Regions from separate parts of the Homo sapiens genome. Here regions 2 and 3 are each reported to be linked to region 1. Evidence: microRNA targets listed by miRTarBase, many of them from high-throughput screens and not tested one by one. Region 1 holds a microRNA gene; each other region holds the end of a gene's coding sequence.

Region 1 (5,073 bases):
GTGAGTCAGAAGCAAGAGGGAGGCAGAGAAGTGGTGCCGCGAGGGCGGTCACCTGTGGGACCACTTGATCCAGCCCCGCCTCCAGGGACAGTAGGCAGAATCGCGGCCAGCAGGCCTCGAAAGACGCCGAGAAAACGCAGAGCTGGGCCCCTTCAGCCCGGCCTGGAACTCACCATCCACGGTTTTCTTCTTGAAGAGGGACGCCATGGTTAAAGACTGCGCCCGGGCGGCCCGGCTCGGCCCGGTCCGGCCCAACGCTGGCAAAGGACAGGAGGAAAAGGACAGGACCTTGGCGGGTTCGGGGTGGCGGAGCGGAGAGACAGCAGGAGGAGGTCGGGGTCGCCAGGCAGGACCCGCGGAAGGCTTGTATCCGCAGCTACCGCAGCCGCGTCACCCGGAGCTCAGGTGACCGGGAACTAACACACTTTTTGGAGAAGTCACTTCTAGGCGGCGCCTGCGCGTTGTGTGGCGCCTGCGCACTACGGAGTTTGAAGCCGCGGCCGCTTTCCTCACGTCTGCGGCTGCCAGTTCCTCCTGCACCGGGAGTTGGCAGCGGGGCGAGTCTGGAGCTGGCGGGGATAGGAGAGCGTGGGGCCACGGCTTCTGTGCGCGGGTTGGGTGATGATTGAGGACAGTGATCAGCCTTGCTTAGCGCTTCACCCCTTGCCCCGGGGAAAGCTGGATGAGGGATCTCCGGGCTCCTAGACTAAGTGTGGGTTGTCCCGGAACCGCCTGTACCCACTCCGAGTTGATTTATTACGGTCCCATTGCTGTTAGTATTTTTGTTGTTGTTGTTGTTGTTGTTTGTTTGTTTTTACTCGAGTAATCCAGGAACTGGCGGAAACGTTGAGTTCCGTACCCGGTGATTGTTGGCCCCTGGAGTTCGCGGTCCTTTCGGCACTGACTGACTCGGCGACCTCCCCCGCACCGCGCAGACCCCTGCAGGACCCTAGCCGCTCACCTGCCGCCCCCGGCTCCAGACTCCGACGACCCAGCGTGGGTCTCCGGGGATCCAGTGTCTAGAGTTGGGGGGGTCTCGAGGACGAAGGGAAGTTTTTTAATGCTACACTTTTTGTTTAAGGTTCTTGCCTGGAAACATTAAAACACACACACACACACACACACACACACACACACACAAATTTGTAGGCTGGTCTAAATGTCTCCAGCTCTATTTCTTAATTTCTTGTAAATCATGAATCATAAAGTGTCATGGCTATACGGTGATCCTATTAGAATTCCTCACAGCCGTTTATTTGGGCTTTTTGTGAAAAACTGCATATCATGTTAAAGAAAAAATGTAATGAATTATTTAAAGAATCCTTGCATGTATAAAATGGAAAATACAACCTATGCGTGCGTACCTGTATATAGTCTCTACTGTTTAAAGCAACACTGCCTTCCACAGGATAAAAATAATGGTAGCATTTTTTTTTTCATAAATATTATCTCTGATATGGAAGAAATCCAGAAGTGGCTAATAATATTGACACTATAACAATAATGTCAATATTATTAGCCACTTCTGGATTTATGAATCATGTCTCAAGGATTATTATTTATGATAATCAGGCCAGCCTTTCCCATTTTTCCCCTCCTGAGATATCCAAGCCCTCATAGCCACTGATAATGCTGCTGCTGCTGCTAAAAGTTAGCTGAGAGTCTGTTCAAGAAAACTTTCTTAAGAATGACGTAGTAATATGCAAGATATAATTGTTTTGCTTCTCCTCAAGTTATTCTCGATATGGGAAGATGAAGTAAGGAAACATTAGGAAGACATGTAAGTGAGAAGATTTAGTCTCTGCACTCAAGACCGGGCCTTTTCTGGAGTGAGCTCTATGGCAGTTTGCCCTGGCTGTCTGTTGTAATGAATGGCATAGAGCTGTGCTTGAACGCATGAGAGGCAATAAGCTGTTATGTGTGTAGTAATCGTACTCCTCCCTGCTGCAGTCACCCTTGTTTTATTACTCCTATACAATCCCCCCCACTGACCCAATTGTAACAGTTGGGAAAATGCCAAAATACTTAGGAGCAACCATATGGAAGACCCTCCAAAAGTGCACAGCAGGAGCTAAAGACAGGGCTTGTTCATTACAATAAAGACAAAATAGAAATATTTACTATTTAAACTCAGTACTCTAATAGCTTGTTCTCCCATAGTTTGAAGAAGGCTGATATTCAGCTGATTGCACCAGTCTAGCTAGAGTCCATTCTGATTAGTTGGTGGCCACATTTCTCCTGTACACATTTTGTATTATTATATCGCTCCTTATTTAAAGGGCATGATACACTTAAATATATGTTGTTTTCTGGAGTATTTCATAACATAGTTTCCTCCTCTGAAACTGAAATATTTGCCATTTTTTCATCTTTGGGTACCTCGGGTTATAATTTGAATGGGTGCATTCTTCTCCTTGTTCAGCTTTTGAAGAAAGATAGCATAACATTGGAGAGTGCTGATTCTGGACACAGACTGCCCAGTTCTGTGACCAATTCTGTGACTTTTAAGTTTTAAGACCTAGGCCAGTTCACTGAAGCTCTCCGTGTTTCTTTCATCACATATGTGATAGAGATAACATTAGCCCACCTTTCATATATTAGGTTGGTACAAAAGTAATTGGCGAAAACCACAGTTACTTTTGCACCAACCTAATAGCTGTTGCAAGGATTAAATGAGTTAATATGTTAAACATTCAAAGTAGTGCTTGGCACGTAATGTCTTAGCCCCTCTGTGCAGCTACAACAAAATACCACAGACTGGGTAATTTATAAACAGTAGAAATTTATTTCTCACATTTGTGGAGGCTGGGGAGTCCAAGATCAAGGAACCCAGAGGTTTTGTTTCTGGTGAGAGCTGCTTTCTGCTTCCATGATGGTACCTTGCTGTTGCATCCTCAAGAAGAAAGAGATGCTGTATCCTCACATGGCAAGAAGGACAGAAGGGTAAAAGGGCGGTAGGCAGCTCCCTCACACCTGTTTTATAAAGGAACTAATCTCATTCATGAGGGCTCCACCCTCATGACTTAATCACATCCTAAAGTTCCCACCTCTAAAAACTATCACATTAGTGATTAAGTTTCAACATATGAATTTTTGGGGGGTACATTCACACCATATCACATAATAATCATTTTTGTATTATCTGTATTGTTGTTTCCAGCTGTTTTACCTTTTTATGCTTTCTCAAGTAATCTTCATGCTGAAATTCTCTTCTCTGTAGTACAGAAAACACAAATTGAAGATTTAGGCTTTCTGATGCTGATCTTGGTTACCTTCACCTTAACAGCCACCACCTCCCCAAATTAGCCCATTTCTTTCTCCTTAATAAAAAAATGGTTTTATTCTCAGCAAACTAACACAGGAACAGAAAACCAAACACTGCATATTCTCACTCATAAGTGGGGGTTGAGCAGTGAGAACACATGGACACAGGGAGGGGAACATCACATGCCAGGGCCTGTCAGGGGGTGGGGGGAAAGGGGAGGGAGAGCATTAGGACAAATACCTAATGCATGTGGGGCTTAAAACCTAGATGATGGGTTGATGGGTGCAGCAAACCACCATGGCACATGAAGACCTATGTAACCAACGTGCACGTTCTGTACATGTATCCCAGAACTTAAAGTAAAATAAACAAATAAATAATAAGATAATGGTTTTCTTGTTCTTAAATCTGTTATTTGTGTAGGAATTGACTTGTTATAGAAATATGTATCTAACATTGGTACTGGAAGGATTCGGTGCAGATTTGTTTCTGTTTGTCTTTTCTCCTCAGCTTCAATTTTAAACTCCTTGGGTTCAGAGAGAATCTCTTGTCAGGCCCTTCAATAATTTTCCTACTAGAATGTAAATATATTTAATAGAAACTTAATATGCAATCGTATTTTCATATTATCCATGTTTCAATGTTTTAACGCCAAATGACAAGTATATATATATACATTTGGTACATTTTTGTTGATTTGACACATTTAACTTCAAGTCTCTTTATATATGAAAAGCAGCTAACATTATCTATCTCCATGAACAACAGTAGAGATCTAGAGAACCTAAAAGTCAATAAATAATTCTGTATGTATGTAAGGATTTAGCGAAAACATCAACTCATTTGTTTCATGTTTCACATGGATTCAAATTTGAGCATACTTTAAGCTGTTTTGCTATTTCACTAACTACACTGTATTCTGCTTTATATTTAATAATGCTACAGTGACTATCATGATGCTACATGATTATCATAAACAAAATTAAGAATAAAACATTAACCTATATAACATTGAAAAATTTTTTAGAGATATGTAGAAGCTTAGCACAGAGAGAATCATCATTTTTCAAGTCTAAAATATCTCATTTCTTATAAGTGACTTCATCTATTCAGGCTGTTATAGCAAAATACCTTAGAGTGGGTAATTTATAAACAGATTTATTGTTCACAGTTCTGGAGGTTGGGAAGTCCAAAATAAAGGTTCTAGCTGGTCCCACATCTGGTGAGGGACTGTTTTTCATAGATATCACCTTCTGTGTGTCCTCACATGGCTAGAGGAATGAATAAGTGTATTAGTTCATTTTCATGCTGCGAATAAAGACATAACTGAGACTGGGTAATTTATAAAGAAGAGAGAACTCACAGTTCCACATGGCTGGGGAGGCCTCACGATCATGACCAAAAGCAAGGAGGAGCAAAGTCACATCTTACATGGTGGCATGCAAGAGCACGTGTGCAGGGGAAATTCCCTTTATAAAACCATCAGATCTTGTGAGACTTATTCACTATCATGAGAACAGCAGGGGAAAGACCTGCCCCCATTATTCAATTACCTCCCACCAGCTCCCTCTCACAACGTGGGAATTATGGGAACTATAATTCAAGATAAGATTTGGGTGGGGACACAGCCAAACCGTATCAATAAGCTTCCTCATACCTCTTTTGTAAGGGCAGTAATTCTATTGATAAGAGTGGAGCCTTCATTATCTAAACACCTCCAAAAGCTCCACCTCTTAGTACTAGCACAATATGAATTATGTTTCAACATTTAAATTTTGGGGGGACACAAACATTCAGCCCATAATAAG
Region 2 (5,059 bases), not on the chromosome of region 1:
GCCTTTCTCCCCCTTCCCTGCCCCCTCCAAAATACTAGGCTGTACACCCTGGCATTTAATGTGTGATCTTGACCCATGCACTGAATTTAGGTGAGTTAATTAATAACAATATTTTCAGGAAAATGCAATCGTTGTTTTTCAGTTTATTTGTTAATATATCTTTCTTCAAAAGAACATTTTGGGCCAGGCAGTGGCTCATGTCTGTAACCCCAGCACTTTAAGAGGCCAAGGCGGGAGGATCACTTGAGGCTAGGAGTTAGAAAGTAGCCTGAGCAACATAGCAAGACTCCTGTCTTTATTAAGTAAATGAAATAAGAACATTTTGTAATGCAATAAAATTGTGTCCTAATATAGCCTCACCATTAGATTTCATACTTCTCACCTTCTATTGCCCTCAGCTACTCAGCACAGAAGCCTGACATTGGGGTGGGACCATTAGGCTGGGATTGGTTAGTGGCTGAGCCCAAGTTCACCCATCCTTCCCCTGCCTCTAACAGGACTTTGCCAATACCATTCCTGGCCATGGAGGCATCATGGATCGCTTTGACTGCCAGTATCTGATGGCCACCTTTGTCAATGTATACATCGCCAGTTTTATCAGGTATAGTACCTTTCCATCTGAACCAAGTTGGTGGATTTTTAAGTACGGTGCAATTCTAGAATTTTAGCGGCATCTAAGTTCCAGTGAAAAGCATCCCAAATAATGCAGTTTTCAGTTGTTTCTGCTTACAGATTTTCTGAGGCCTCCTGTCATCTGTTAATAGATAACTCTCTGATCCAGAGATCAGAGCAGCCACTCAGATAATCAGGCCCTGGAAGCTTCCGGGCCCTAGCTCAGTGCTGTTTCTTCACATTCTGTTCCAGAGGCCCTAACCCAAGCAAACTGATTCAGCAGTTCCTGACTTTACGGCCAGATCAGCAGCTCCACATCTTCAACACGCTGCGGTCTCATCTGATCGACAAAGGGATGCTGACATCCACCACAGAGGACGAGTAGGGGCCACCCAGGGCCAGGAGAACAGGAACAGAACTGAGCAGGGGCAGGTCTCCAAGGCAAGCCCAGCTGGTGTGACTTAGACAATGACGAGGCTTCAACTCACTGTCTTTTTTTTTTTTTTTTGGAGGGTATTTTTTATTTGTGGGTTCAAAAAATCTGTATATACAGTCTATGTGTTTAGAATTTGTGTTGTAAGTAAACTACAGCTTTGAGTTGGAAAGAAGTCACGGGTTGTAAAACCATTTGGATTTTTTTAAAACAAAAGTATTAATAATCTGGAAGACAGTGTTGCCCAGGTCAGGAGTGTTTTCTTGGTGGTTCCAGCCCCCATCAATTGAACTGTTTCTGGGCTCAGTCAGACACAGACATTCATCTGTGTCTGACCAAATCAGGGGACTTCCCCACCTGTGGTGGGAGGCACAGCTTAGATGTTTTGTACACCTGGTCTTTTCTAGAAATCCCTGCTTGGAGCTGCAGAAGGGTTGCCTTCTGTAGGTCGGAGGAATGGAGGCTTACTAACCAGGTAAGCCTTCTATGCATCCACACCAAAATCCTGCAGAATGTAAGTAAGCTCTGCTTTATAAGATGGGTTCACCTTCATCGCAGACTGAAAGTTTCAGTTTTTATTTTTTTCAGAAAGCACGAAAAATTATTTATAATAGTCTGGAGAAAAAACACACTGTAATATTTCAAGTGTATGCAGTAGAATGTACTGTAACTGAGCCCTTTCCCACATGTCTAGGCTCCAATGTCTCCTGTAGGTCCACCTAACTGTGTGTTTTCAGGGACAATGCCATCCATGTTTGTGCTGTAGACTTGCTGCTGCTGAATCCTTTCTGGGGACTTTCTCATCGGGCAGGGAGCAGAGGGCTTCTCGTTCATGCACCCTTTGCCTGAACACCCATGTAGCTGCTGTGTTGTGTATATATTACTCTTAAGAGGAGTGTGTGTGTCTGTGTTTGTTTTAAAAGTCACTTATTTCTTACAGTGATTTCAATTGCACCATGACTTCTTCACTAAAACCACAAAGTCCTGCTTAAAACTATGGAAAACCTAACCTGATTAGAGCCTTGACTATTTTGAAGATTAAATGCACACTTTTTATATAATGTGACCAGTTTAAATGTAGTTTGTATTGTACTGGGGGACCTTTCGTTGTTGTTGTTTGCTTAAACTGTGATTTTTTTTCCCCTCCCTAATTTCAGGGGTGAGATTGACTTTGGGAAGACAGATTAGTTCTTTGTCAGGCCAACAAGTGATGGAGTGCGGGAGAGAGAACTTGGCACCCAAATATATCAAACTATTCCGTGCCGTGGATGTTTTCATTGCCAACGAGGGTGTAATGATTTGCTTCTGCACCTTGGTCTAGTGCTGGTTTGTGGTGTTTTTGTTTGTAAATTAGCCTCACTGCCTCCCTGAAAGTGCACAGTCAGCCCAGGTCTCTAGAGTGTCCAGCAGAGGATGGAGCCCTCGGGATGTTTCAGCTCACACATCCTTGAGTGACTTCCCATATGTGTGTGGGGCTGAAGCGGCTTCTTTCCGCTGAACTTTTATTTCCATTTCAGCCTCGTGGCTTCTCTTATTCAGGTCCAAGGCCCCTTAAAAACAAAACATATTATCGCAAGGGCTTTCATTTCAGTATTGGCTGTGTCACTGGCAGGATGCATCACTCTCCAGGGCCTCTTTTTCGGAGCTACTCCCAATTCCACTCTTCTGTGATTCTGGCTGAGCAAGTTCATGCCGGTAGAGGCTCATTAAGTGAGGTCCTGGGCACCCCCCAAACAGGAAGTGTTTTCAGGCCCTTACATGCTTATCCTTAAGGTGAGTAGGTATCTCAGCAGCACACCCGAACAGTAAAGGTGATCAATAACGAAACTGTAGTTTTCAGATTGAAGAATGAACCTGGATCACCAAACTAGATACCGAAAGGGCTCCTCATTTGTCTCTTTTGTCCCATTGTGGGCATATGGTGGGCTCCTTGAGAGGAGGGAGTCTCAGCTGGGGCCTGGCTGCAGAGACCTGCTCTTGAATAGGGCTGCCTTTGGGATCAGGGAGCCGAGCATACTGGGCAAGGCTCATCATGTTCCTTTGTGGAAGTGGTTACTTGGTGGGGGTGGGGTGGGGAAGGGGGGTCTAGGAAGCCGAAGCTGAGTGCGCACTAGAGCTGCTAGCAGGCAGGCCAGAGGGTCAGCTTGTGTTTTATTTTCTGATTTCTCCTGCATGCTTTCTGGAGATGAGGATTTTTTGTCAGGTAGCTAGGAGAGCACTGCCACCTTGTGTCCATATAGCACAATGTTTCTCTTTCCTATTCACAGACAAGATTCAAGAAACCATTTTTACGTGTGTACATTCAAATCTTCATGAATGGCATCACTTGCTTTAGACCCATTTTTTTTTTATTGGTCAGAAATAAAATGTGACTGCAACTGTGTGCCCTCCCTTGTCGTGAATTCCCTGTTTATCACTTCCATGCATGGTTTTATGCTTCTCATTTGTTTATGTATTCATGAATACTGCATAGTCCTGATTCAGAGACTTTTGCTTTGCTTTCCAACTTGTATCCCTACATTCTCACAACAGCCTTCTTACCTCGGGTGAGAGTCATGAGCACCTTACCAGGCAGGGAGCTTCCCCAGGATAGTGTGGTGGAGTCAGGACTCACTCCATCCTGCACTTTACCCACAGGACACCTGGAGGGTCCCCCAGCCCTGCTTGCTTTTGTGAACGTCGTGTGAGTACACCGAGGTGTTGCAGCTTTCCTTCCCTCTAGCTCAGGAGGCCTGGCCTGAGCCAGGTTGGAGCTTAAATTGCTGTTGGCTCCTGCCTGGTGGAACAAGGGGGTCATAGAAACCAGGGCTGATGGGCACCCCCCAGCCCCTGGGAGCTCTGCTCATGACCGCTCACAGGGTACCGAGTCTTTGCCTTTTGTGTGTGCGCATGCTGCCCTCTTAACTGCTTTTAGTATTCAGAAAGGTTCCATTTATGTTTTACTCCTGAAAGTGAAACCCTCTTAGGCAACTTGTTTCATATTCTGGGCATTTTAGTAGCTACAGTATTTTGCATTTAAAATGTAATTACTCTTAGTATTGTACAGCCCTATAATGTATGAGAACTAGTTTCACATCCTTTGAAACTAATCTCTTTCATTGGGGAGGATACAACTTTTGACTTTACACAGGTGGACTTTGAATCCATTTTTATAGAATTTTTTTCCACTGTAACTTGACCTATATTATGCAAGAAAATCCCAAAAATATGTTTTAAGGGAGACTACACAGACCTTGTGATTTGGTCTGAGCTAGTTGCTGAGTTGACTGGAGCCTTATTTGAATGGATCTTTGAGTTGAGATCTTCACACTGTCAGTGAGCCCTTGGCTCAGCCCTTGTCACCTGTTTGTATGGGGACCATGTTTCCCAAAGCTCAGGTTCATCTCCACTATTGACAGAGTCGGGTAGTGGGAGAGTATAAGTGACTTGAGACAGAGTGTCCTTGCTCAGAAAACTGTGAAGCAGGGGTCTTGTTAGTTACAAAGCCAGTCCTAGTTGCATGTCCAAGGGGGTAGATTTTCATCACCCTACTAAATGTGGTATGTCACTGCTGAAGCCTTTTCCTGTTTTAGTAATATCTTAGGCACTATTGTCTTTTGTCTTCCAGAGTAACATATCTGGGCCCACCTTTCTTGCACACTGTGATTATGTGCTAAGAAAAGGGTGGAGTTGGGAGGACAATTTCACTTGAACAGGTTTCTGTTCTTCTGAGGTCAGGGTGGGGAGGATGTCCAGGTGACTTTTATGGACACATTGCAAGACAGTAAGCCGCGGATGGACTCTCACTTGTGCTTTGGAACACTGGACTCCAAAGAGCAGGTGGAACAAACTCTGGCCTGAAGATGATGGCTAATACTCAGGCAGAGCCCCGTATTCTTCCCTGACTTGGTCAAAACAAACTTCCTTTTCCCTTGATCACCCTGCACGCAGCTGCCCAGCTTCCAGTTTTTAAAGAGATGAACAGCTCTCACTTCCTGACTCAGTTTCTCTTGTTGGGTGGGGGCCTTGTGCCAC
Region 3 (5,059 bases), not on the chromosome of region 1:
ACACCTGTGTGGCATCTGGGCTTTGTGGAGGTTCCCAGGGGTGGAGAACGCTCAGGATGGATTTCTGCCCTTTAACAGAGAAGGAGAACATGGCTGCTGGCTGTCCTGACAACTTTTAGTTCTTGAGCCTTCAGAGAGCAGCCTGTTCTATCTGTTGGGAGTGGGCTTCGAGAATTTAAAGACCTGCAATGTATGGTATGGAGCTGTTGGATTCTTGTCCATAAAACTCTTCCCCTCTTGAAGCTAGAACCTGATATAGTGGGTGCCCAAGAGATGTAGGTCTGCAGAAAGTTCTTATAAGGAAGATCCAGTGAAGGAAGAAAAAGATCTTTCAAGCTACTGCATTGTGACTCAAGTAGGATCCTGAGCCAGACTCATACTGTGTTAAGACATATACTCTAGTTAGTCCCCTTTTCTTCAAAGGAGAGTGATTTGTCTCTTATGTAGCTGGAAAAATATTTTTCTTTAGAAAGACAAACTCGCCGTCCTTTTCAGAATTAGCCTGAAACCTGTTCTGATGAACATTGTTGGCTCTCAGGAAGCCAGGGCTGAGCTTTGGGCTGGTGCACTGCCCATCTTTAATATGCCTTGTGTTTTGCATAATAAAAAAATACCCCATGCACTCTTAACTGTGTGCACCTCATCCTCTGTTTGGTTATTTGACAGAGATGATGGCTACAGAAATCCAGAGCCCCTCAGGCAGGCTGTTCTTTGAGGTTTGGGTGGGCTGCTTTTGGAATGGCCCCCCAGCAATGTGCCTCTTCTGTAGGAGGTGCCGCTGCCAGAGAAGTGGTCACTTAGAAGCAGTCCTCACTCCCAAGCCATTTTCTTCCCTGCAGTGCATTTGCAAGATACCCCAATGGAGTGGTCGTCCATTACTTCTGTTCCAAAGAGGTAAACCCAGCTGACACTTGAGCCCAGCATCCTGGGGATCCAGCGGATGGACAGCTTGGCTCTCCCAGAGAGGTGAAGGAGCACCTGGCCTTAGGAATCCTGGCTGCCACCACCACAAGGCTCCCCATTTGGACATTACTGGCTATCTTGTGCCCTGGAACAACTCTGAATTAATTAGACTCATGGTCTGGCATTGCCAGCTTTTTAATGGGAAAAGAGATTAGTTATACCTTATACCATTATGTTGTGGGCAATTCCAGAGAATTCAGTACCTGCTTGGTCAGGAGGATGTGCACCATCTTGCCTTTGCACACCAGTCACCTGAACAAGGAAACTTGTCACAAGTGTTTGTAACCATGGGGTTGTTCATCAAGGGCTTTTCTATTAAGTACATGACTTCACAAGGACCGCTCAGCATGGCTCACTGGAGAGTTCCATGAGAGAACAGCACTCAAGCTTCTGGCCGCATGGACCCGATGGCTCGCATTCTGTGTAGTGTTTTACGTCTCCATGGTAACTGTGCCCTGCACCCCTCGGTAGCCGCCCTGTTAGTTTTCAGTCTCCTTTTCTTTCTCACCATTTATCACTTCCCTCACTGCCCTACCCAGGCTTTCTCTCCCACTTCCCTGACTCTGGGAATAACTAATATTTAAGCAAGGTAAGATGAGAAGCAAGGGGTCTCAGTTCTAGGAATACAGTGCTAGTTGATTGTCAGGTATGTTGTAAATAGACCCTCTTTGGCCATACACTCCATGCCTAGATGCCTCGGAGAGCATCATTCTCTGCCTAGGCAAGGCCCTGCATCCCTTGCCTCAGGCCGGGCTGAGTGTGACTGCAGCTCCTGAGGATGGGCCTGCCCTGTCTGGGGTATGCGTGATCCCTAGATACATGTTCCCACAGAGGTGCCTGCTCCGTCTTCGCTCACCAGACACTCAGGCAGGCTGGCTTAGTCTTTGTGCGTGGCGATTTTGTGCTCTGGGCCCTTTCTCTTTTTCCAGCCAGTTTCCATTCACTTGCCTTACAGCCTGCCCTGGCCGTCACTCCCCAGCTTTGTTCAGCAATGGTGTGGTTGGAGAGTTGTGCTGGGATAGCGCAGGAAGGTGGGTCCCGGCAACACGCAGGGGATGAGTGGACCTGGAACTGACAATGGCGTGCTGCCAAGTGTTCCTGAGAGGTGTTTAGGCACAGCAGAGGGGACGCGGGGGGCAAGAACAGCAGGACGCTGGTTTAAAAATAACTCACCGCCAAACCTGTGGAGCAGTGTGGGGCATCCTGCCAGAGGTGCACAGGCTGGAGTTTCAGGCACTGCAGGCTGATGACACACAGGGAGAGTGGCCCTGCCTCCTGTCCTCCCCGGGGTTTTTGCAGACTCGAAGTCTCACTGCACCAGTGTCTTTGATGGTGGTGAGGGTGGGTGATGGTGCCCAGCACCAACAGTTTTAGTGGCCTGTCCTTGACCTGCCGTGGTCCTTTGTAAACTATGGCTCCATGCTGTGTGACAGATCAACGTGCTGATGGTAAGTAGACTAGGCTTCCCCAGGCATGCCGTCCGTGGGGGCCTGAAGAGACAGTGAGTGCCATTGGCCCCATTCGCAGATGTGGGAGACTCTGCTCAGGCCTGTGAGGCTGGGCAGCCCTTCACCAGAGTTCGGAGGAGCAGTGTGTGGCGCCACGTCCCGACTGGCCATACCCACACAGAAGCAGTGCTGCCCGGGGCCTCATCTGGGCCAGCTTGGACTCTGCTTCCTCCAGGAGCAGCAGGGAAGCTCTGGGCCACCTCCCTGGATAGCAGGAACTTGACCTGCCATGTGTGCCCTGCCTTCCTGGCCAGCTGTGCTTGTTATCTTCCATTCTCACAAACTGTCTTTGAAGCAATAGAATAAAGAATGTGTGTTTTCTTTCCTGGTATACATACATGATCCCATGCTCCCAAGCTCCATTCTTCCTTCCCTCAACTCTCTGCCCTCCACAGAGCTATGGAGAAGGCTGGAGATGAAAGCTTTGTAGTGAGGACTGATAAAGATCTCATCACTGCTCCTTATAATAAACCTAATAAAGCAAGAAACCAAGCCTATCTGGGTCTCTTATTTCTCCCTCCCGTGGAGTTTGATGAAAATAACAATGAAAAGATAGTAGTTTAGCAAAGAACTTAGAAGAATAAGCCAATTAGTGACCAAGAAAAAATGAATATAATACTTGCATTACAAATGCCACGTGGTACAGCCAGTGTGGTCATGGCTGATGAGTCAGCAGCACAGATACGGAACACATCCATCATTACAGAATTCTGCGGGACACACTGGCGTCTGGGAGATCCAAGTGTTTTCCCCCATCATGTAGTAGCACCTGGTGCCTCTTCCTGCAGCCCATGATGAAGGAATTGGGATGGAGGGACGCAGAGGTGTTTGGGAAGTGGAGAAGTGTTGGTTCACTTTGGCCAACTCCAAAGAGAAAATGTAGTCCTTGTTGTCTCTGTCCCATCTGGCACTAGGGGCAATGACTTTATTGTGCAGTGGGGCCGATGACTTCCAGAAGAGGATGGTACAGCCAGAAAGACACATCAGTCAGGAGCTAGAGCCCCAGCCTGGTTCTGCCCCCAGCTAGCTCTGTGCCCTCTCCTCTTGTATGGATCCGCAGGTCCCCTGCATACATTCACAGCTATCACCAACTGCCAGACTCTCATTTCTTAGAGCCCAGGCCAAGTCTTGGCTTCACAATCCAAATAAAGCAGAAACAGGCCCTTCTTTGGGGCCTGGTCACTGGCAGTCACACATTCCTTTTTTGGGGGGAGTTTCTGGTCTGAACTTGCCCATTCGGTTCATTTTGGAGTTGAATCACATCTTTTTTGGATGTTGTATTTTTCAGCCTGTGACTCTAGGCCTTGGGAAGAGTGGAGATGACTGAATCTTAGTTGAGGGACAGAAATTCTCTCCCTCCCACAGTTCACGGCCCCCGAGATCCTCACTCTTCCTGGAGACTGTGCCTGTCTCAGCCACCTTGATGGTTGTGGTCCACAGAAGAGCGAACATCACATCCATCTGCAGCCTAAGGCCTACGATGGCCAAAGAGAATGCTAAAGCCTGTATATCTGGTCGCTGAAGGATACGTAGACTTGTTGTTTGGCCTGTCCTTATTTATAACCCCCTGCCCATATGCCTGTCTGTACCTGGACACTGTACACTGACCCAGGAAGCGAGCCTGGGCCAAAGCCACAGGGAGTCATGAGACTGAATTTCTCCAGGATGTGGATGGGCCCGCCTCACCTCTGTCACCTTTGCGTTTCTGGGCCTAGCACAGGTCTGGCACCCACCAGGCTCTTGGTGTTTGGCGAATTAATGAGGGTGGTCAGGAGAGATTAAAAACATCTTTGATGAGTTCATGTCCTTTGTAGGGACATGGATGAAGCTGGAAACCATCATTCTGAGCAAACTATCGCAAGGACAGAAAACCAAACACCACATGTTCTCACTCATAGGTGGGAATTGAACAATGAGAACACTTAGACACAGGGCGGGGAACATCACACACCGGGGCATGTCGGGGGGCAGGGGGCATGGGGGAGGGATAGCATTAGGAGAAATACCTAATGTAAATGACGAGTTAATGGGTGCAGCACACCAATATGGCACATGTATACACATGTAACAAACCTGCACGTTGTGCACATGTACCGTAGAACTTAAAGTATAATTAGAAAATATATATAAAGAGAGAAACATCTTTGATCCCAGATGAAACACTGAAGCAGAGATTTCTAGGCTTCAGCTTAAGAGCCGCAGGGAAGGTGGGACTTGAAGGGTGGCTAGTTTCAGGCCTTTTCCACAGCTGGAGGAGACTCTTCCCTGATTTGCACTTGCCAGCTGGTCTCTGGGCCAGCTGTGCCAGCTTCACCTAGAGGTCTTGTTGGAAATAGCTCCGGTGTCTATTTTTCACAAACAGCCCAGTGATAACCAGGGCGCTGGGTTTGGGAACAAGAGTGCTAACCAGAGACCCCAAGAGTCTCTTGGAGAGGGACTGAGCTGCCTCCTGCCTGGGGAAATTAAGCTCCAGTCACTTCCTGGAGCATGTCAAACTCCACCTCCAGCAGGCCATCCAGCCTGAGTTCTCTGCAGAGCAGGCAGCTCCACCCTCCCAACTCAGTGCTGCCTGTCACACCTGAGCCAGC

Evidence for each region. Region 1 holds the annotated microRNA hsa-miR-4795-5p (AGAAGUGGCUAAUAAUAUUGA, at 1,470-1,490, shown strand). A microRNA usually pairs through its seed, bases 2 to 8, with sites in the 3' UTR of a target mRNA and lowers its output. Matches are read on the target gene's strand: a 7mer-m8 pairs with bases 2 to 8, a 7mer-A1 pairs with bases 2 to 7 and ends in A, and an 8mer does both.
Region 2: miRTarBase lists CDS2 as a target of hsa-miR-4795-5p. The part of its 3' UTR that is shown has no 7-base or 8-base seed match.
Region 3: the mRNA of VPS39 is a reported target of hsa-miR-4795-5p. Seed matches in the 3' UTR shown: 7mer-m8 at 1,513-1,519.

What each region holds. Positions count from the first base shown.
Region 1 is chr3:87,222,657-87,227,729 of GRCh38, reverse strand. MIR4795 (microRNA 4795) reads left to right here and starts at 1,453; the gene lies at 1,453-1,541. It overlaps CHMP2B (charged multivesicular body protein 2B), which reads right to left and starts at 421. Exons shown (of 6, transcript NM_014043.4): 1 at 174-421. The coding sequence starts at 207. RefSeq lists enhancers at 210-329, 400-469, 520-569, 660-719, 830-969.
Region 2 is chr20:5,189,238-5,194,296 of GRCh38, forward strand. It overlaps CDS2 (CDP-diacylglycerol synthase 2), which reads left to right. Exons shown (of 13, transcript NM_003818.4): 12 at 498-601; 13 at 865-5,059. The coding sequence ends at 997. Among named protein-coding and RNA genes, the nearest start is that of CDS2, 65 kb to the left of the region's middle. RefSeq lists a silencer at 1,313-1,382 and enhancers at 2,951-3,040, 3,814-3,863.
Region 3 is chr15:42,156,610-42,161,668 of GRCh38, reverse strand. It overlaps VPS39 (VPS39 subunit of HOPS complex), which reads left to right. Exons shown (of 25, transcript NM_015289.5): 25 at 840-2,968. The coding sequence ends at 915. PLA2G4F (phospholipase A2 group IVF) reads left to right here and starts at 5,033. Exons shown (of 20, transcript NM_213600.4): 1 at 5,033-5,059. RefSeq lists enhancers at 1,803-2,302, 4,593-5,059.